Regions from separate parts of the Homo sapiens genome. Here region 2 is linked to region 1. Evidence: fine-mapped expression QTL. A gene starts in region 1. The other region holds a variant in brackets. All regions are shown on one strand. Distances are from middle to middle. Region 1 holds the start of IGF2R (insulin like growth factor 2 receptor). Region 2 holds the start of ACAT2 (acetyl-CoA acetyltransferase 2).

The links. PIP is the estimated chance that this variant, and not a neighbour inherited with it, causes the effect.
Region 2: its variant is fine-mapped to the expression of IGF2R in caudate (GTEx, PIP 0.97).

Annotation. Positions count from the first base shown.
Region 1 is chr6:159,961,527-159,972,241 of GRCh38, forward strand. IGF2R (insulin like growth factor 2 receptor) reads left to right here and starts at 7,556. Exons shown (of 48, transcript NM_000876.4): 1 at 7,556-7,869. The coding sequence starts at 7,721. RefSeq lists silencers at 7,117-7,736, 7,747-8,026, 8,047-8,176.
Region 2 is chr6:159,760,035-159,770,749 of GRCh38, forward strand. ACAT2 (acetyl-CoA acetyltransferase 2) reads left to right here and starts at 2,011. Exons shown (of 9, transcript NM_005891.3): 1 at 2,011-2,108; 2 at 2,885-3,019; 3 at 6,971-7,152; 4 at 8,477-8,594. The coding sequence starts at 2,054. SOD2-OT1 (SOD2 overlapping transcript 1) reads right to left here and starts at 2,298. Exons shown (of 2, transcript NR_037166.1): 1 at 1,960-2,298; 2 at 224-1,602. It also overlaps a transcript of SOD2 not described here. RefSeq lists enhancers at 1,264-1,323, 3,392-3,892 and silencers at 1,754-1,813, 1,834-1,983. The variant A/C (reference allele first, on the strand shown) is at 4,085.

The DNA.
Region 1 (10,715 bases):
TAGAGAATTTTCTCTTAATCATAACTGTGGTGCTCTTCAAGTGTGGCAAGTTGTGCTTTCCAAAGATAGCCACACCTGGATATTTATTCTGTTTCACATGTTCTTCTTATGATGTGAGTAGCCCTCCCCCATTGAGAGCTAGAGTCTAGGTTTCCTCTTTTTGAAGCTGGGTAGGGCTTGGTGACTGTCCTGATCACAATGGCAAAATTGGTGTCCTGTGATCCAAGAATGAGTCATAAGAAGGATGTAGCTTCCACCTCGCTTACTCTTCCTTCTCTCTCCTTTTGCTTGACTTGGAACCCAGCTACCACAGCTGAAGAAACTCCGGCCACATGTGGAGGCTATATGCAGGCATTCCAGCTAAGGTCTCAGCTGACAGCCAGCACCAACCATCAAATGTGCAAGTGAAAATCTTTCAGATGATACCAGTTTCCATCCTTCAAGTCTTAAAGCTGAGGGCCCAGAAGTCTTAAAACAGAAATGAGCCATTCCGACTGGACCCTGTCTAAATTCCTGACCCCATTAATTCTCACTAGTGAGAATTAATAAATGATGGTTGTTGTGTTACACCACTGGATTTGAGGGTAATTTATTACACACTGATAGACAGTTAATACTAAGAGCCTATTTTCTCTTTTGTTCTCTCCCTGGCAATTTCTTTCACTATGCCAATGTCTTGTTATCCTTCTCATCACCTTCCTCCCAAGTCAACTCTCCCATCTTTGCAAGTGCCTCCCCATAATTACATTCAATGCAGGCTTCCTGCCTGTGTTCAGTGTTGCATTACCAGTTGTCTAGTGGTCACCTCTGAATACCTAGACTTGCTATTGCACAAAAAGATACTTAGCGTCTTGCTCCTCAGATTCATTTCTCTTCTGTTTTCTCTGTTCTCTGGAACCAATCTACCTGTCTACAAGCGTTGATCATCATTGACTCTTTCTTTCCTGTCTGTCCTACCCAACAGGTTGCTAAGTGCTGCATTGGGTCAGTTGGTATGATTTTGGCTGCAAGAAATACAAAAGTTAGCTAATCATGGTGTGGCATTTTGGGGCCAATCAGGAGGTAGAAACAGGGGAGTCTTAATATAAATAATTACTAACTATGATGAAGGAGTAACTGTAAGATGTAAGAAAACTCTACATAGTCCCTCAGGCTGACGGAGAGGACTCAAGGAATGACAAGCCTTCAGATCTGAAGGCATTCAGATTTCATGGGAAAAGGTTTGTTTCCATTTATTGGATAGCAGACTGGCCAGGCTGGAGCTGGCCTGCACTAGTATGCAAGTTGGGGAGCAGGTGGTCAGCACCTCATGGTATGGATGTCCTGGGAACAGCAGGAGAATCTCTTCTGCAGTTTGCCTCCAGTGTCCTCTGCTCAGAAAGCTTAATGTCATTTAGTTGAAAGGAGAACTGCTTAAATGGATTCCTTTATCACAGAGCATATACTAGAAGATGCATTCAAAGCAGAGAGGCAATACATTAATAACACATGCACTTGGCTTAGGCATATTTATTTATTCTATCACAAAACAAAAGATCGGATACAAGAGTTTTGGTGAAGTGGACCAGTGTCATTCAGGATCCTGATGTCTTCCGTCTTGTTCCCACTGTGTTGGCCACATTTTCCCTCACAGTTATGAGGGGACAGCAGTTTCATATAGAAATTACTGCATCCAGACAACAAAAAAACACAAAAGGGGAAGGGATTTCTGTTTTGCAACTCTTTTTATTGGAGAGAAAGCATTTTGCAGAAGATCTCAGGAGACTTCCCATCGAGTTCCATCATCAGGACTGGGTCATACGCCCTTGCTCTGGCTGTAAGAATGTCTGGGAAGTGAGAATCTCACACCCACAGCCTCTGGTGGAGGTGGGCTTTGCCAGCAATCAAGGGCATGAGATGCCTGCAGGAAGGCAGCCAACCACACCTGCCTCATGCCTCTAACCCTATTCCCCTCTAAATTCCCATGCCAAAGCCTTAGGGCATTATCTTTGATAGTTACCTGGCCAGGTGTTAACTAACTGGGAACTGGGTGTTTTTGAAGGACACAAGGCTTTCTGCTGTCGAATTTGTCACCTTAATTGTGATACTTTTAATAAATTAGCTTCCAGTCTATCTTAAAACCAGATGGATTTTCCTGATGTGTCACCGTGAACATCTCTCTTTCTCCAAATCTCTCAATGAGGAGGCAGTTGATGAGTTAACTGCATGGGCTTTGGTCCCAGATCATACAGCTCACATCCAAGCGCTGTCACTTACCAACTGCATGACCTTGGGCAAGGTATATAATTTCTTTATGACTGAATTGCTCATCTTTTCAAGGAGGGTAATAAAATTACCTATTTGGTGGGATTGGTATTAACAGTAAATGATATAATACAGGAATGGTATTGACAGTGAGCCTTCAGTATGTATTATTGTATCTGCTGTTATTGTTCCCTACTTCATATCCAGCCAAATCTAAGCTTATTAGATGACCATTTAAGATCCTCTAGGAGCTGGGCACAATAAAAATTTTCAAACTTATATAAAAATTGACTACGTCCTAAACTGCGAGCTCCTTGAGGGAGGGATTATATTTTATGAGCCCAGGATCTAGCACAGTTTTTGGCCAAAAGTAGTTTTTCTTTATTCCCATGTGACTTTTGCTTAAGCAAAAGGCCTTGTACAGCAAATACAGCTTCTGTATTTTACCATGGCCTTGCACTTGCTGTTCTTTGTGCCTACAATGTCCTTTCCCTAAATTTCCCCCATTCTTCCAGATTCACTCAAAAGCAATCTCTTTCATGATGAGATCTCTTTCCCAATTCTCATTTTGAAAAATGTCAAACCTATAGAAAAGTTGAAAGAATAGTACAAGAGCACTGATATATTCTTCACTACATTTGTGACTGTTAATATTTTTAACCTCTGCTTGCTATTCATACATATATTCTTTTTTTCCCCTGAAATCATTTGAAAGTTGCCAACATCATGACACTTCACTTTCAGCATGTATCACATAAGAACAAGCACATCGTCCTATGTAATCACAGTAGCTTTATCTTATGAAATTTAACATTGATTCAATATTATTTACTGTACATTTTTTCTTGGCAGTTTATGATCTTAGAAATCAAGAAGCCTAAAATGAATCACTGTGTGTTTTGAGGGTCTTTTGGTAGAATCATGTTCCTTTCTGGGTGTTCTAAAAAGTTCCTGGATCTTTGGGGTGAGATTCTGTTTGAGTTTCAGAACAATGTGTGCATGCCATCAGTTTGATAGCTCATGGTTTGTGTTCCAAAGGGGCAGCTATTAGTGTTACCTGTCCCTGCTATTGCTCTTGACATCATGCAGGGACATCCTCAGTAGCTGCTCTTTCTGCCCTTGGTCTGTCATTTGAGCTTGTGTTTCCAAAGTCAGATGCAGGAAGATTGGGTCCTCACAACAGGGCGGTGGTTGGAGCACCTGGATGCCAAGCCTGGATCTGTCCTATCATTTGAGGGACATTTGTGTTCTTGGCTATTTGTGTTCTTAGGCTGCCATAACAAAGTACCTCTGGGTGGCTTAAAATGACAGAAATTGTCTCACACAGTTCTGGAGGCCGGAAGTCCAAAACCAAGGCATTGGCAGGGTCACGCTCCCTCTGAAGGCTCTAGGGGAGAATCTGTTCCATGCCTTTGTCCCAGCTTCTGGTGTTGCTGGCAATCCTTGGTGTTCCTTGGCTTGTAGATGCATAGCACCTCCATTCTCATATGGCTGCCTTCTCCTTGTGTGTTTCTTGCCCACTTCTTGAAAGTACACCAGTCATACTGGATTAAGAACCCACCCTACTCTAGTATAACCTCATCATAATTTATCCATAAGGAATGACCCTATTTTCAAATAAGGTCACACTTGAAGTACTGGGGGTTATGAGTTCAACGTATTCTTTTAGGGGACACAATTCAGCCTATAACAGGGGGTCTTAGGCTGATATCTGTGAGTCTCTGCTTCCTCAAAGGTTTTTCAGAAAATTTAAATGAAATACAGGAGAATTATGCCCTGCAGTATTTGACTTTACAGCAGGAGTCCCCCAACCCTCCGGGCCATGGACTTGTACTGGTCTGTGGCCTGTTAGGAACCTGGCCGCACAGCAGGAGAACGAGGGCATTACCGCTGAGCTCCGCCTCCTGTCAGATAAGTGGTGGTGCAAACCCTATTGTGCATGAGAGGGGTCTAGGGTGGACTGTCCTTGTGATGCCTGATGAAACATCCCCCACAACAGCCCTCCACCATCCATGGAAAAATTGTCTTCCACGAAATTGGTGCCTGGTGCCAAAAGGTTGGGGACTGCTGCTTTAAAGTCCCTTATATAGGATTTACATTAAAAATTTTCCAGTGGTCTCCAAATGTCCCTTATACCTTCCTATTTTTGGGTCTAGGCTCCAAGTAAGAATCACGCATTGCATTTTGTCATGCCTTTTTAGTCTCCTTTAATTTAGGACAATGGTTCTCAAACTTCCATGTGTATGAGAATCTCCTGGAGAGCTTGCTAGAGCAATCTCCTGGTGCCAAACTTCCACGTTTATGAGAATCTCCTGGAGAGCTTGCTAGAGCAATCTCCTGGTGCCAAACTTCCACGTGTATGAGAATCTCCTGGAGAGCTTGCTAGAGCAATCTCCCGGTGCCAAACTTCCATGTGTATGAGAATCTCCTGGAGAGCTTGCTAGAGCAATCTCCTGGTGCCCATCTCCAGAGATTTTCATTCAATAGGTTGAGGCAGGACCCATGAAATGGCATTTCTAACAAGCTGGTAGGTGACACAAAAGTTGCTTGTCTAAGGACCGCACTTTTGAAAACCACTGATCTAGAACAGAGGTTGGCAAGCTTTTTCTGCGGAGGGCCATATGGTAAAATATGTTAGCATTTTCAGGTCATACAGTCTCTGTTGCAACGACTCAACTGTGTCATTGCAGGCAAAAGCAGCCCTAGATAATACATAAACACATGGGTGTGGCCGTATTCCCACAAAACTTTATTTACAAAACAGCTGCCTTACCACATTTGACCCACAGGTTATTGCTTGCTACATGGATTTAGAGTAGCACTTCCACTTTTTTTCTCTTTTTTTTTTTGGAGGAGAGTTGTTTTTTCAGCGCATTAATATTTTGCAATAGTCCAGTTCAGTTTTCTTGTCATATGTTTCACAGTTTGAATTTGATTGTTTTATCTCAATTAGATTAAGTTGAACTTCTTGGCAAGACTACTTGTGATAGTGTGTACGGTAGGGAATAACTGTGAAAGACTTTGAAATGGACCAAAAATATTAGTGGTCAACTGTAATGGAATGCTAGCTGTTTAGTACAGTCTTTTGGGTTATCTGATTCTATGGGGTCTTGTGTCTGCCACTGTCTTTGAGGTATTTTACAACTCTGTAAATTGTAGACTACTGATGGTAATATACACGATTTTTGTCTTTAGAAATGCAAATTGTGTCTATTGCGTACGCAGCTGTTTTTTGACCTATGGTTACTGACCAATTTTCCATCTATAGACAACCTTATTTCAGCATTCCTAACTGCTTGAATATTTGTTGGATTCTCCTTGGATTTTCCTTTGAACCAGCTGTGACATGTTACCGGTTCTCACATTAATGAATGAGCTAAGGAATACCTTTGATACATGTTCATTCTACATCTGAGTCATGATTATACCATCTTTTAAATATTACCCTTTAGCATTTTTTATTGCATCACTTTAGAAAGCAGAAAATGCTAGTTTTTTAAAAATTGGTGATACTAGTTTTAATTACTTGATTAAGGTGGTTCTACCAGATCTTTCCATTGTGAAGAGGTATTTTGTGTTTTTTAAGGAAGTATACTTTGAAGGTGATACTTTGAGACAAAGAGAATATTCCGCTTCACAATAATTTTTCACCAGATGGTTTTAGTATTTACTGATGGTCTTTGCCTGTATCCATTATAACACTGGAGTTGCAAAACACAAACCCTTTTTCTTTTTTTTTTTTTTTGAGATGGAATCTCGCTCTGTTTCCCAGGCTGGAGTGCAGTGGCACGATCTCTGCTCACTGCAACCTCTGCCTCCTGGGTTCAAGCGATTCTCCTGCCTCAGCCTCCCGAGTAGCTGGGACTACAGGCGTGTGCCACCACGCCCGGTTAATTTTTTGTATTTTTAGTAGAGATGGGATTTCACTGTGTTAGCCAGGATGGTCTCGATCTCCTGACCTTGTGATCCGCCCGCCTTGGCCTCCCAAAGTGCTGGGTTTACAGTCGCGAGCCACCGCGCCCGGTCACCACAAACCCTTTTTCGACGTCCACAGTTTACACCTGAGCTCTCCCTTTGACCCACTACAACACTTTCTTTTCTTGGGCAATATATTAATAGCACGGTGGTTATGTCACAGGCCTGTGACTGGCTTGGGCTCAAACCCGGGCTTTTTCACTTACTAGCTGCAAGACTAACTAGTTATTTAATTTCTCCATTCCTCACTTTCCTTATCTGCAAAACGGATGCAATAAAGGCACCCCCTCTTACAGGACTGTTAGGATTAAATGAGCTAAATCACAGTGTCCGAACACTTCAGTACTTCGTACATAATTACTTGCTCAAGAAATGTTAGCTATTATTGGGTCATGATTATTTATATGTGTTTGAATTCCAGCTTTGCCACATCCCAGAGTGTCTTTGAGTAAGTCACTGAGTATCCTTGTGCCTCAATTCCTCATCTATAAGTAGGTTCCCATCTCATAGGTTTTTAAAGATTCATGCTTACATGCTTAGCAGTGTCTGGTATGGAATAAGCACTAAAAAAGATGAGCTTTTATGATGATGATGATTACTATTTTCAGTCATGATTATTTTGTATATTTACTCTAAAAGAAAGTGAATTTTTTTAGTTCAAGACTTTTAGATTCATCGTTCTACTTTCATTGTGGCTAGCTCATGGCCATCCACGTAGTGAATTAATAAAGCTTTGTTGAGTGGCACTTGCTTGACAGCGACACTTTTGTCCACTCTTTCACCTTGCTGGATTTGTGCTGCCTTCCTTGCTGTAGGAAGCCCACGCTTGGGAAATAACATTCCCACAGAAGGTCTGAGAGGCTCTGACGGGCCAAGGTTGTAAACCCCCATGATTTGACTCCACGGGCAGTTAAAGTGTGTTCCCACCCCCCACGGATCCGCTGCCACTAGGCTGTGCGAAGGCATTTACCTCCCTGGCACTTTGATCCAAGTTCCCTATTTTCCCCTACTGGTCGATCGAGGTTGGGAACAGTTGCTCTAACCTGGGAAGCACCCGCCACGATCCAGCAGGGCGCGGTGGGAGGGGAAACTGAGGCCCGGCTAGGCACCCCCGCCGCGCCCAGCCCGCCGAGAGGCTCAGGCCCCGGGAGGCACCTGGAGCCTGCGCCCCGCCCGCGCCGCTTCCTGTCCCGCGCGCTGCGCTCACGTGACCCGGGCCTGGGAGGAGCCGGGGCGGGCGGGGGTCACCTGAACAAGGGAGTCACGTGAGCGGGGGGCGGGGGTGGGGGGGCGGTGCCGGGCGGCTGTCACGTGACGCGGTTCCGGGGCCGCCGCTGCCGCTGTCGCTGTCGCCGAGCCCAGTCGAGCCGCGCTCACCTCGGGCTCCCGCTCCGTCTCCACCTCCGCCTTTGCCCTGGCGGCGCGACCCCGTCCCGGGCGCGGCCCCCAGCAGTCGCGCGCCGTTAGCCTCGCGCCCGCCGCGCAGTCCGGGCCCGGCGCGATGGGGGCCGCCGCCGGCCGGAGCCCCCACCTGGGGCCCGCGCCCGCCCGCCGCCCGCAGCGCTCTCTGCTCCTGCTGCAGCTGCTGCTGCTCGTCGCTGCCCCGGGGTCCACGCAGGCCCAGGCCGCCCCGTTCCCCGAGCTGTGCAGGTGGGTGGCCCGCCCGGACGCAGGCTCCGCTCGCGGTGCCCGGGGTGAGCGGCCGGCGTGGGGGGCGGGGAGCGCTCGAGGAGCTCCTGGGGTCTCCAAGTCGCCTCCGTTCCGCGCCGGGGTCCGCCCCGTTCCCGAGGGAAAGTTGCCTGCGTGGTGTCCGCGAGTCCCGCCGGGTCCCGTGCGCAGGCGGGGGGCGCGGGGGCACACGCGGTCGTGGCGGTCCTGGAGCCCCGCGTCCGGCCACTTGTGGCTGTCGCTGAGTCGGGGGTGGCTTTGTGCGGAGCGGTCGCCCCGGCCCTTGGGGTCGGCGCCTGCCCTCGCGCGGCCGGGCGTCCGGGAAAGTTGGAGGCAGGAACTCCAGTTTGCTTTGTTCCCGCTGCGCGTTTGCATCAGAGTTTCGCCAGCGGGGCACCGGTGAGGCCCCTCGGTGTGGAGAGGCTCACCGGGGCGTTGGAGCCCGCAGGAATGGTCCTGGAGTTGAGTGTTTGTGGTTTCATTTGCTGATTGATTTCCCCCCGTGGGCTCATTTTCTCTTTAAAGAATATATATATATATATATTTTTAGCAGGCGGTGACTTTTGTCTTCTTTAGATTGGGGGCAGGGGGTGTCGTCCAGTGTGAGCTTTCAAGACTTGACCCTTCACTTCTCTGAGCCCAACTTCCTGCCTGGTTGCTCACATGATGTCATTGTCTCCGGGGCGGATTATTCTAGTGGATCTTGCTCTGGGAACCATGATTGTATAACCCATCAGTCCCATCGAGGGCTGTTCACCTCGCGCAACTGCTAGCAGTCCAGGGCCTGGGGAACTTCGAATTTCAGGAATTTTCTGACCATCCTTTTCTGGACTGTTTAGGATGATGGAAAATTCAGCTTTTGTTTATTTTTTTAAACTTTGGTAAAAAGGAAGCAGGATGAAAAGTTTTGAACAGACAACAGTTTCTCCCTGTTACTGTTACTTTTACAAGTTACTTTTACAAGTTACTTTTCAGAGTGAAACAAAGTTGAGCCTACTTTGGGCTGAACTTGGAGTTTGTGGTAGGGTTTATGGGGGGGGTTCTTATTTTTCCCATGCATCAGAGATAGTTTTATTAGCACCCCTGTGTTCAGAACATGCAGAAATTAGTCTAAGGAGGGTGAGGCTGATCTCACGATAGAAACTCTTTGGAAAGGCCCATATTTTTTATGCTCCCTTTTTTGGAAGGGGAAGGGTGGATGGAGGGAGAGTTTGTGACACTAGTTTAAAGACCAGTTAGCTACCCTAAGATACATAGTTACTCCAGTAACTAGTATGATACAGAGAAATGGTGGCAGCTTAAACGAGGTCAGGCTGAGAACAACATTTAGAGGAAGGCATTTTGGAATAATGGCTTCTGTGACCAAAAATAAGAAATTAACTCGCCTGGGCGCGGTGGCTCATGCCCGGAATCCAGCACTTTGGAAGGCCGAGGTGGGCGGGTCACTTGAGTCCAGGAGTTGGAGGCCAGCTTCAGCAACATGGCGAAACCCCGTCTCTACAAAAAATATGAAAATTAGAGCCGGGCGCGGTGGCACACTCCTGTCCTCCCAGTTAAGGGAGGCTGAGGTGGTAGGATAACGTTAGCCCCGCAGGTCGAGGTTGCAGTGAGTTGTGATCGAGTCGAGTTGCACTCTAGTCTGGGCGACAGAGCAAGGCCCTGTCTCAAAAATAAATAAATAAATACAATAAGAAATTAACCCAGCTGGCCTAGTGTGGTTGAAGTCTTGGTCTTGTTAACAAATTGAAGTTTGTTTTCTTCACAGTTAAGATTAAGGTGGCTTCAAGGGCAGACTGATACTTTGGCTGATTGATGGGACCCTTACTTTTGCATTAGGTTAGTCATGGCAGTGTCTTGAACCTGTGTTCACGAACTTCATCTCCAGGTGGAACACGGCCTCTTGGTCTAGTAGGAATGGCCTTTGTATCTTTACGTTTTTCTGGCCACTGTCACACGTGGGCATACTTAGCAAATGCTGAAGAGGTTTCTGAGGTTGATATGCATTGTGAATATAATAAGATCTGCCCTTTGTAGTCTTAGAATATCTTAAAAGTTGTGTTTAATTTTTCTGCCAGATTTTCTTAGGATGACAAATCTGCCAATCATTTCAGAGACGGATTTTCACCCACCTCTTTCCCTGTTACTTCCCTGTAGTTGCACATGCAGACTTCTCCAGAACCACTTGCAATCTCTACTTTAAACCCAACATGTGCCAAGTGAACTTCCTGTCTGTTCCTGTTTTATAATTTTTTGAGGCAGGGTCTCACCGCGTTGCCCAGGCAGAAGTGCAGTGGTGCAGTCATAGCTCACTACAGTCGTGAACTCCTGGGCTCAGGCAGTCCTTCCACCTCACCCTTCTGTGTAGCTGGGATTACAGGTGTGTGCCACCCCACTTGGCTTATTATATATTTTTTAAAATTTTTAATAGAGATGACGTCTTGCTATGTTGCCCAGGCTGGCCTCAAGCTCCTATCCTCAAGTAATCTTCCTGCGTCAGCCTCCCAAAGTGTTGGGATTACAGGCATGAGGCACCATGCTGGGTTTATGTTCCTGTTTTAAACTGATACCTCTCCTTAAATACTTTTTGAAAACTTTTCTTGGGGCGGGGGAGGTTATCAGTCATCTGTACTTTTATGAGATAAAACTGGCTAAAATTTCCGTAAATGTAGCATGTAGTTGAGGAATAGGAATGTAAGTTGATTTTTTTTTTAATTTGATACAAAAAATTTTATCGTGTCACCAAGGTGTGACGTGTTAAGCTCCATTTTAATTTTGTTCCTGGGCATCAGTTTGCTGAAATGTAAATAACTCGGCCAGGTCTCCACTGT
Region 2 (10,715 bases), 200 kb before region 1:
TAGAGGAGACAGATAAACTAGGAATTACATGGTAAGTTGAAAGAGGAAGTTAGGGGTAAGATGCTGCACCAAATGCAGGAGATTGGAAGGTTTTTCTGGAAGAAGTGATGTTTAGGGGGAGTTTCAGAGGTAAATTTCTGGTTTGGTTAACAGAAGATAGTTTCACTGCTCACTGAGATTACAGAAGAAACAGGCTGGAAGAGTTTGGTTTCAATATGTCAAATTTGATGTGCTTATAGGAAATTTTATTTATTTGAGACAGTTTCTCTCTGTCGCTCAGGCTGGAGTGCAGTGGTGTGATCTCGGCTCACTGAAACCTCTGCCTCCTAGGTTCAAGCGATTTTCCCATGTCAGCCTCCCCAGTAGCTGGGATTACAGGCGCACGGCACCACGCCCGGCTAATTTTTCTATTTTATGGTAGAAACGGGATATCACCATGTTGGCCAGGCTGGTGTCAAACTGCTGACCTCAAATGATCCGCCCTCCTCGGCCTCCCAAAGTGCTGGGATTACAGGTGTGAGCCAAGGTGCCCGACCTGATGTGCTTGTAAGAATTTAAATGAAGAGGGTCAGTCAGCTTAGGAGACGAGGTTAGATGTAAGGATTTCAGACTTGTCAGTATACAGGTGGTGATTGATGCCGTAGGAATGACTGGTATTACCCAGGGAGCTGGTGCAAAGTAGGAGCCTTGGGGAACATGTTAAGGGGATGTGAGAGTAAGCCCACAAAGACTCAGAAGTGGCCAGGGAGTAAGGGGAAAATGGGATAGAATAGAGCAAAAGCCACGGGAGGCATTCCTTGAATTCCTTGGACTCAGATATGTTAGGGGACAGGAAACACATTGAAGACAACTGAAGAGACTTCAGTGTGCTGCTGAGTTCTTAGCAGAGTAGACAGCTGATTTCACCACTATTCCAGACCCTAAAGATTTCTCCTGAAATTGCACTGTTATGCAATTTTTTTCCTTCTCTATTGCCCCACCTCTGGGGCCTACACTCTTTACCTTCTCTGATTTATCTGACCCATCCGCATATCTCTGCAAAGTCTTAATGTAGGTTTCCAGGATTTAATGATTCTTTCAATCAACTTTAAAGTTCTTCAGGAAGATTCTCCAGGTCCGTCAACAGTTTTCCCCTTCATGACTTTGTGACAAAGCTTTCTTGTTCCACTATCCAGGTGTTCCCAACAAGTTGCTGTAACGGTGGCCCCTCATAAGCTTGCCTGGAAACCCTAGAAAGCTCAGAAAAATTATGAACTTTGCCCAGTAAGAGGCTGGGAAGTCAGAAAGGGTTTTAAACAAAACTGACCCCACTTGTTACATGCTCCTTTCACTGTCCAAACGTCAACCAAAGGAACTTTTGTGACGCTAAGACGCTCCCGGCGTCCTCACCCGTTCACAGCCAGAGTTGATCTTAGAAGGCAGGGGGCTCGCACCGAGACGCTCCTAGCAAGCCCCTCACGCGAGCGAATGACTGGCGCCAGGAGAAACGCATAGGACCTCCCGAAGCCGCCGAGAGCAAAAGGACCCATCAGAGCTGTGCTGAGACCCGCCGCGGGCCGGGCTCGCACTCGAGATTCTCGCCCGTGGGATTCCAGTCCTGAGCTGAACGAGAGATAAGTCTTTGTCACCCCCCAGTCTTTACTGTTTCGAGAAACCCTAAGATTTTTTAAAAAAAAGCCCAAGACGTCAAGTCGGGGAACTCCAACATTGGGGTGTCCAGAAACACTGGGGTTTCAGGCGCTCTGTAAATGCGTCCGAGGTCCGCGGTTCTGCCCGCAAGCCCAGACCCCGGCCTCACTTCCGCCCCGCGCCCCGCGCCCCGGCCTCACTTCCGCCCCGCGCCCCGCGCCCCGCGCCCCGCGCGCCTCCGCCCGCCCCTGCTCCGGCCTTGCGCCTGCGCACAGTGGGATGCGCGGGGAGGTGGTGCGCGGGGAGGTGGAGGGCGAGGGGCGGGGCTACCTCAGGTCCCGCCCGCGGCAGGCCTGTGGGCTGCGAGGAGGAGCTTTGCCTAGCTTGCAGGCAGCGCAGGGCAGACGGCGGCAGGAGAAGCAAGATGAATGCAGGCTCAGATCCTGTGGTCATCGTCTCGGCGGCGCGGACCATCATAGGTGAGTGGCCGGCGGGAGCCGCGCAGAGTCCGAGGCGCCTGCTGCTTCGGCAGGAGCGCCGAGGGCCGGACTTGTGTAGGAGAGGGGCGTATGTGGAGGAAGCCGGTCAGGCCAAGCCGCGAGGAGCCGCGGGATCCCTGGAACCCTGCGGCTCCCGCGTTCCCTGACCTGGTGCTACAGCCCCACCCTCTCCTCTCCCGATGTGCGCACTCCGTCCCTCGTGCTTGGATTGGCTCCCGGGGTAGAGCCATCGCGTGGCCTGCCTCTCCCATTGGTTGGCGTAGGGAGGTGTTCTCCTCCGGGGCCCCTGATTGGCCGGCTCCGGGAGGCGCCATCGGTAATGCCTGCGGCAGGGGCGGAACTGCTAGGTGGTCTGAGCCCGGCTTTGGGCTGGGGTCGGGCTGTCACACAATGGCTAGAAGTCGTGACTTCGTCTCCTTCGTGCCGCATGGTTTTCAACGCCCTTGACCCGCCGGTTCCTTTTGTTTGGGAAGCATGGGGTCGCATCCAGTCCTTCGGATTTGGGGAAATAGAAGGGCTACAGCGGCGTCCCTAGGCCGTTCTGGAGGTCGCCTGTCCAGCCCTCGGCTGCTGCGAGTTGTGGCACCCACCTTGACCTTTGCTCAGACCAGCAGGTGTAGGAACGTGTGGGAGGAGAGGGCACTGCCTCCTCGCGTGGCCTTGCCAAACAGGGTCATGAGGCTCCCCTGCTCGTAGGTGGTTCCCGTATTACCCGCAGGCTTGTGATGTCCACGCTCTCCGCCTTTCTATTGTAGGTTCCTTCAATGGTGCCTTAGCTGCTGTTCCTGTCCAGGACCTGGGCTCCACTGTCATCAAAGAAGTCTTGAAGAGGGCCACTGTGGCTCCGGAAGATGTGTCTGAGGTCATCTTTGGACATGTCTTGGCAGCAGGTAAGTCTCAGTGATTCCAGGAGAAGTCAGGCTTATTAGAAACAGCCCATAAACACACACACACACACACACTCTCACACACTCACACACTCTCTCACTCACTCAAGTTCTTGCCTCCTTGCTTTTGCTCAGAGTTCCCTCTGTTATGATTCCTCCTGTTGGCCCCCTTCTTCCAGCCCTGTCAGTAGCTTCTATCCAGCTTGAGACTCAGCTTCTTGGCCAGGCAGGGTGGCTCCCGCCTGTAATCCCAGCACTTTGGGAGGCGGAGGAGGAAGGATCACTTGAGTCCAGAAGTTTGAGACTAGCCTGGGCAACAAAGCAAGACCCCGTCTCTACAAAAAATAAAATAGCCAGGTATGATGGCCTGTGCCTCCCAGCTACTGGAGAGGCTGAGGTGGGAGGATCACTTGAGCCCAGGAGTTTGAGACTGCAGTGATTGTGTCACTGCACTCCGTCATGGGTGACAGAGTGAGACCCCTTCTCTAAACAAACAAAAAGACTTAGCTTCATTAATATGCTTTTTGTGAATGAACTTAGACCACTGACCTACACCACCTACACTGCCTTTTCTTTTCCTTTTTTTTTTTTTTTTTTTTTTTTTTTTGAGACGGAGTCTCTCTCTGTGGCCCAGGCTGGAGTGCAGTGGCGTGATCTCGGCTCACTGCAAGCTCCGTCTCCCGGTTTCACGCCATTCTCCTGCCTCAGCCTCCCGAGTAGCTGGGACTACAGGCGGCCCACTGCCTTTTCATTCTTACGAAGCAGGGCCGGCCGGGCCCGGTGGCTCACGCCTGTAATCCCAGCACTCTGGGAGGCCGAGGTGGGCGGATCATGAGGTCAGGAGATCAAGACCATCCTGGCTGACACGGTGAAACCCCGTTTCTACTAAAAATACAAAAAATTAGCCGGGTGTGGTGGCGGGCGCCTGTATTCCCAGCTACTTGGGAGGCTGAGACAGGAGAATGGCGTGAACCCGGGAGGCGGAGCTTGCAGTGAGCTGAGATTGTGCCACTGCACTCCATTCAGCCTGGGCAACAGAGTGAGACTCCTTTTAAAAAGAAGAAGAAG[A/C]AGCAGCAGCAGGGCCAGCCTGACGCATAGGAAAGTATGCCTGCTCCTCCTTACTACCTCAAAGTGTCACTCATTCAACAAAAATGTATTCAGTTCCTCCTATGTGCCCCATACTGTGCTTAGTGCTGGGAGTATGGTTCCAACAATACAGGTAAGTTCCCTGCCCTCTTAGGGCTCAGTTCTGAGCTTGGAAAATAGGTGCCACATCATGCCCCTTGCAAATGGGGCATATCACTCCCCAGAGGAATATAGCTGAGTCCTGAGAGTGCCCCCATCTTCTGATTCTTTGGGTTTGAACACTCGTAATTAATTAATTAATTATTATTATTATTATTTAAAGAGACAGGGTCTCACTCTGTTGTCCAGGCTGGAATGCAGTGGTGTAATCAATCGTAGCCCACTATAACCTCAAACTCCTGGGCTCCACGGTATCCTCCCACCTCAGCCTCTGGAGTAGCTGGGATTACAGGAGCAGGCCACCACACCTGGCTAATTTTTTAAATTTTTTTGTAGAAGTGGAGTCTGTCTGTTGCCTGGGCGTGAGTGCAATGGCTGTTCACAGGCACAATCATGGTGCACCATGCCCTTGAACTTCTGAGCTAGCTGGGACTACCGGTGCATGTCTACTAAGTTTAAGGCTTTTAAAGCACTGTGCTAAATGCTTTCCTTTCATTACCTCATTTAATCTTCCTCACAAGTCTGTTATATCCTATTATCTTCATTTTACAAATGAATAAATGAGAGTTTAAGAGGTTAAATGACTTACCAGGGTCACAGTTTGAAGTGGAGCTAGCACTTGAACTTAGATCTGTCCTATTCCTTGAGCCAGATACCTTCTACAATCATGTAACAAATGTTTATTGAGCACCTACTTTGTGCCAGGCACTATTTTAGCAGCTGGAGATAAGCAATGTTCATATCAGATAGAAATTCTCATTCTCATGAAGCTCGTAGTATGCTAAATGCTAGCATTATTAATTGTGTTAGCACCTCATTTCTTTCTTTTTCTTTTTTTGAGATGGAGTCCCACTCTGTTGCCCAGGCTGGAGTGCAGTGACGCAATCTTGGCTCACTGCAACCTCTGCCTCCCGGGTTCCAGTGATTCTTCTGCCTCAGCCTCCCAAGTGACTGGGATTACAGGTGCCTGCCACTGTGCCCAGCTAATTTTTGTATTTTTAGTAGAGATGGGGTTTCAACATGTTGGCCAGGCTGGTCTCGAACTTCTGACCTCAAGTTATCCACCCGCCTCGGCCTCCCAAAGTGCTGGGATTACAGGCATGAGCCACCATGCCCAGCCCTGTACCTCATTTCTTCTTTTTCTTTTTTTTGAGATGGAGTCTCACTCTGTCGCCCAGGCTGGTGGAGTGCAGCCGTACAATCTCGGCTCACTGCAACCTCTGTCTCAGGTTCAAGCAATTCTCCTGCCTCAACCTCCTGAGTAGCTGGGATTACAGGCGTGCACCACCATGCCCAGCTAATTTTTGTATTTTTAGTAGAGAGGGGGGGTTTCACCATATTGTCCAGGCTGGTCTCAAACTCCTGACCTCAAGTAATGCGCCCCCCTCCCCCGGCCTCCCAAAGTGCTGGGATTACAGGTGTGAGCCACTGCTCACAGCCTGAGGCACCGCACTGGGCCTGTCTTTTTAATATGTATATGATCCTGCATATGTTTTCAGTCTCAAGTAACCTTACCCGTTTTTAGTTTCCAGCCTAATCCCAGATTGATAACATTGTGATGAATATAATCTCTAAGTTTTTATCAGCGACTTATTTGCTAGTTCTTCCCCACAAACTCTCCAAGGAAGGGTGGTAGGTTTGAGTATATCTGAAACTGGGAATAGAGTAACCACTTTATAAACATTTACCATTGACTCTGATAACAGACAATGGCGATTGAGAATATTTGAAACTTTTAACTCCATTCTCTTCTGTGCTACTTTAAGTAAATTATGTATTTCTTCCCAACTAAAGGAAGTCCCATAGTTGAATTATGAAAAGATATTTGTGTTTCAGTACTCAGAATGAGAAAAAAAGGTATTTGTGAATTCTGAGTTTGTATATATTTTGTTATATAACCATTTAAGCATAGTGTAATGAATACTAAGCAAGAACAGAACTGCTTATTATCAAAGGTTTTCCTTTTTAAGTAACCCTTTTTCTTCTCAAGTGTCTTAAGCCATGATCTTGGGAGCAAATGGCCCTAGTTAGAAACACTGATAATGCCTAGGTTATATCCTGTGTTTATTAGACATAGGTTTGATAATGCTTATTTAAGCACCCCCCCGCACTTTTTTTTTTTTGAGACGGAGTTTCGCCCTTGTTGCCCAGGCTGGAGTGTAATGGTGTGATCTCAGCTCACCGCAACCTCCGCTTCCCAGGTTCAAGCAATTCTCCTGCCTCAGCCTCCCTAGTAACTAGGATTACACTCATGCGCCACCACGCCTAGCTAATTTTGTATTTTTAGTACAGACAGAGTTTCTCCATGTTGGTCAGGCTGGTCTCAAACTCCCGACCTCAGGTGATCTGCCCTCCTTGGCCTCCCAAAGTGCTGGGATTACAGGCATGAGCCACCGCGCCCAACTATTTAAGCCATATCAAAAGATGAGGATGACACTTCTTTCTTAATGTATTAATGACTTATTTATGGAGGAGAAAGCTTATATCTATGAAATACCTACAGAGCAGCACAAGGCAGTATATATTCAAGGGCTAGACTGTGACAGGTGGAGAGTGTATACAGGCCTTTTTGCCTCCAGTGGGCACTTACTTGACCTGTAGGCTTTCAGAAGTGGCAGGTAACCCAACTGGCAATTTTCCACACACTTTCACTGTGACATTTTGTCTTTCTCCTTGATTGCTAAGAGTCCTCTGTGTTCCTCTTTCTAGGCTGTGGGCAGAATCCTGTTAGACAAGCCAGTGTGGGTGCAGGAATTCCCTACTCTGTTCCAGCATGGAGCTGCCAGATGATCTGTGGGTCAGGCCTAAAAGCTGTGTGCCTTGCAGTCCAGTCAATAGGGATAGGAGACTCCAGCATTGTGGTTGCAGGAGGCATGGAAAATATGAGCAAGGTAAGGCCTCTCTGATGAGGTGGCTTTCACTGACCTCACACTGAGAAACTCATGTCTATGCCAGAACAGAGTAAACAGATGCATAGCAGAGCTGGAACCAAACAGTGAACAAATAAACAGAAATGACAACCTTGATCCCTACTTGAATGTGAAGTATTCTTCAGTTTGGGTGGGAAATCCGGGTTGATAAGAAGTTTATCAACCAGTGTGATTGGAACCGAATATACTTTTTCTAAACTATTAATGAAGCATGTAATATTTTCTGAATTAAATTCATATTAGTTGCTTGATGTCCTTGGTTTTAAATTTCTTTCCCATTGTGAGTAAAAGGCAAAAAACAGATGTTGCCACTTACCTTCCTGCACATGACAAGGAGATCCTGGGGACCAGACTTTTTGACCTTTTCAGGGTATAGAACATGTAAAAGAGGACCACCAAGTGGTGCCCTTCTCCAGTAGGTTTGCCAGGCATGATTTGTTTCACCAAGTTCCATACCTCAAACTGGCATAGTGGTTGAAAGAAAAACTATACCCCCTGCTTCCTACTGATGCAGCTCAGGGGCTGAGGTGCAGATTCCCTAGATAGAAGCTGATTCAGCCCAGCCATTGCTGAGGTTCAGGAGGAGGCAGGCTAAAGGTAACAAAAATAATCGGAGTGATTTTGATGGGATGATACTGACATCTGTGTAGTACTTTACCAGGTGCTTTTGTACATGTGTTCACAACAGCCCCATATAGGGTAGATGATACCATTCCCAGTTTACAGGTAAGGAAACTGAGGACCAGAGCCAGCATTCAAATACAACTCTTCCGACTCTAAGTCCAATCAATGACTCTTTCCATTCTAATATACCTGCTGTTGAGTTGGTGAGAGTTAAGACTGGCCGCTACTCAGAAATCCCTCCCCATCATTTAGTTAGCCTGATTATTCTCACTGTAGACATTATGTCATCCATTGAAATAGGTAACACATTGTTAGCTTTACTTAAGCCCTTAGAGGATTTCTTCATTTAACAGATAATTAATTGCCTCGATGGAAAGAATAAATGGAATTCTTAAGGAAACAGGACACAGAATGGGTAGGTTTGAGGGAGAATTGAAAATGGGTAGGTAGGAGAGTAATCGTTCCCAACAATAGGAAAGATGAAGTCTGCTAATTCCAGGGGTCTTTAGACCTTGGCCTGGCTGAGGACCTAGAACTGGGGAGAAGGGCTGCAAAGGGGCCTAGATGAAGACTTAGGAAATACTAGATAGTTTTGAGTTGTATTCTGGGGAGAAGACTAATTGCAACTAAGCCTAAATCCATTTTTATTTCTGACTTCTAGGCTCCTCACTTGGCTTACTTGAGAACAGGAGTAAAGATAGGTGAGATGCCACTGACTGACAGTATACTCTGTGATGGTCTTACAGATGCATTTCACAACTGTCATATGGGTATTACAGGTAAGGCAGACATGGCTGAAACTGTATTAGCTTTAAAAAGGTTAAAAAGACCATATACTAATCTGCTTCTTAGGTGCTTTCGTCCTTATGGCCAGAGACTGTCTTAAGGATTTTTATATCTCTTCTTTGATTAACTGAAGTGAAGTAAGTATTCTCTTCTTTGTGAACTCTTGATTATCAGAGAATGTTAGAAGTGGGAAGTACCTCAGAGTTCTTCTGGATCAACCCCTCATTTTACCAAATGAAGAAACAGGGCCCACAAATAGTGCTTCTGTGGCAGAGGTAGTGACAGAGATAAACCAGTTGTTTTTTTGGTACCTAGCTGTACTTTTTGTACTACACAATTGGGTTATTGGTCATTCATGCTGAAGGGTCCTGTGGTCTAAGTTTAATGGCAAAGCAACTGGGAAATCAAAAGCACTCTTGTCTTTAGTATACATGTAAAACTTAAGAAACAGAATAGACATTTTAGAGTTAAAGAATCAAACCCTGAGAAGTTAAGCACCTTGCTCAAATGCATGCAGCAATGGCTCTGGTTTTATGTAACACATAAATATGTGAAAAAGGTAATGGGGAAAAGTACAAGATTCCAAGAGGGAACTGTGTGCATGAATGCTAGGAAGGAAGGAAGGGCTTAGGGATATGGGAAGCAATGAGAAGCTCAAGGCATCTTGACCACTTCTCGACTTACAGCCACAACAGAGAAGGCTATAAAAACACAGGCAGACAATGGAAGACACTGTGTGACCAACTGCCTCAACCATAACTAGAGGTGGTCATTAAAAATTCAGATCCCGAGCCCTTTCCAAGGTGTACTGTGGATTGAATGGTACTCTTCCAGCCTCCAGAACTGTAAGAAAATAAATTGCTCTTCTTTAGAAAAAAAGAAAAGAAAAAAGGCTCAGGTCATGATGGAGTAATTGACAAAGATTAGATTTCCTACTATAAACAAGCATAAAACTTGTGAAAATATATAAAGCCACTGTTTTATGTATGTCAGGTTTTGACTAATACTCATGTAAGACTGAGATCCTTGAGAGAAGGGAAAACCCCACTGTCACTGTCTCTACCCAGGGCACTTCCCAAACTGTGTTATGGAGAGGCAGAGCCTAAGCTGGAAACAGTGGTCTCAGTGATCTGAAGAAGCAGAGAATTTGGGGCTTCTGAGATGGCTGGAGTTTGTGGGGCAGAATAAGGGGGAGAAGAAAAAAAGAGCTCCAGAAATCTGCAAAAGGTTCCCCTTAAGTCTTTGATCAAATACTAAGCTTGTAGATAACAGCTTACAAGGCCTAGTAGAAAAGAGCTGCAAAGGAGAGGTGAACTGGAGATTTTATAGATTACTAGGAGATAAAAGTTCTGGACAAGCGAGTGGAAACCTTACTGAACTCCTTGGACACTCCATTGACATCTCAGAAAGACCACAGTTTAGGGGTAGGGCCAAAGCCATAGAGTAAAAGCTACTCTAGACCCAAACTAATAAGCTTAAAAACAAGCCTCAAAAGGATCAAGGTGATTTGCCAGTATTTTGACTGCTTGTGGAAACAAAACTCAATATATTCTCTAAAGATAATAAAATCTCTATGTCCAGTTATGTAGCAACTATAATGTTCAGCATGCAATGAGAACTTTCTAGATACACAAAGAATTAGGAAAATATAGCTTACAACCAGGGTGGAAAAAAACCACAACAGTCAACAGACCCTGCAATACTAGAATTATCAGATGAGGATCTTAAAGGCTCTATTTTACATATGTTTAAAGATACAAAGGAAAATATAATCTTCATAGAGGAATAGATGTGGACATCTCAGGAGTAAAAGGAAAAAATATAAACAAGAACCAAATAGAAATTCTAGAACTTGCAAAGTACACAATCTGAAATTAAGAATTCACTGGGATGGGGCCGGGCATGGTGGCTCGCACCTGTAATCCCAGCACCTTGGGAGGCTGAGGTGGGAGGATCACTTGAGGCTGGGGGTTTGAGACTAGGCTGAGCAACATAGTTAGACCTCATCTCTAAAAAAAAAGAAAAAAAAATTCTGAATGGCCTTAACAGCATCTTGGAGACAGAAGAAAAAGGGTCAGGAAGTTTGAAGATAGATCATATACACGACCTGAAGA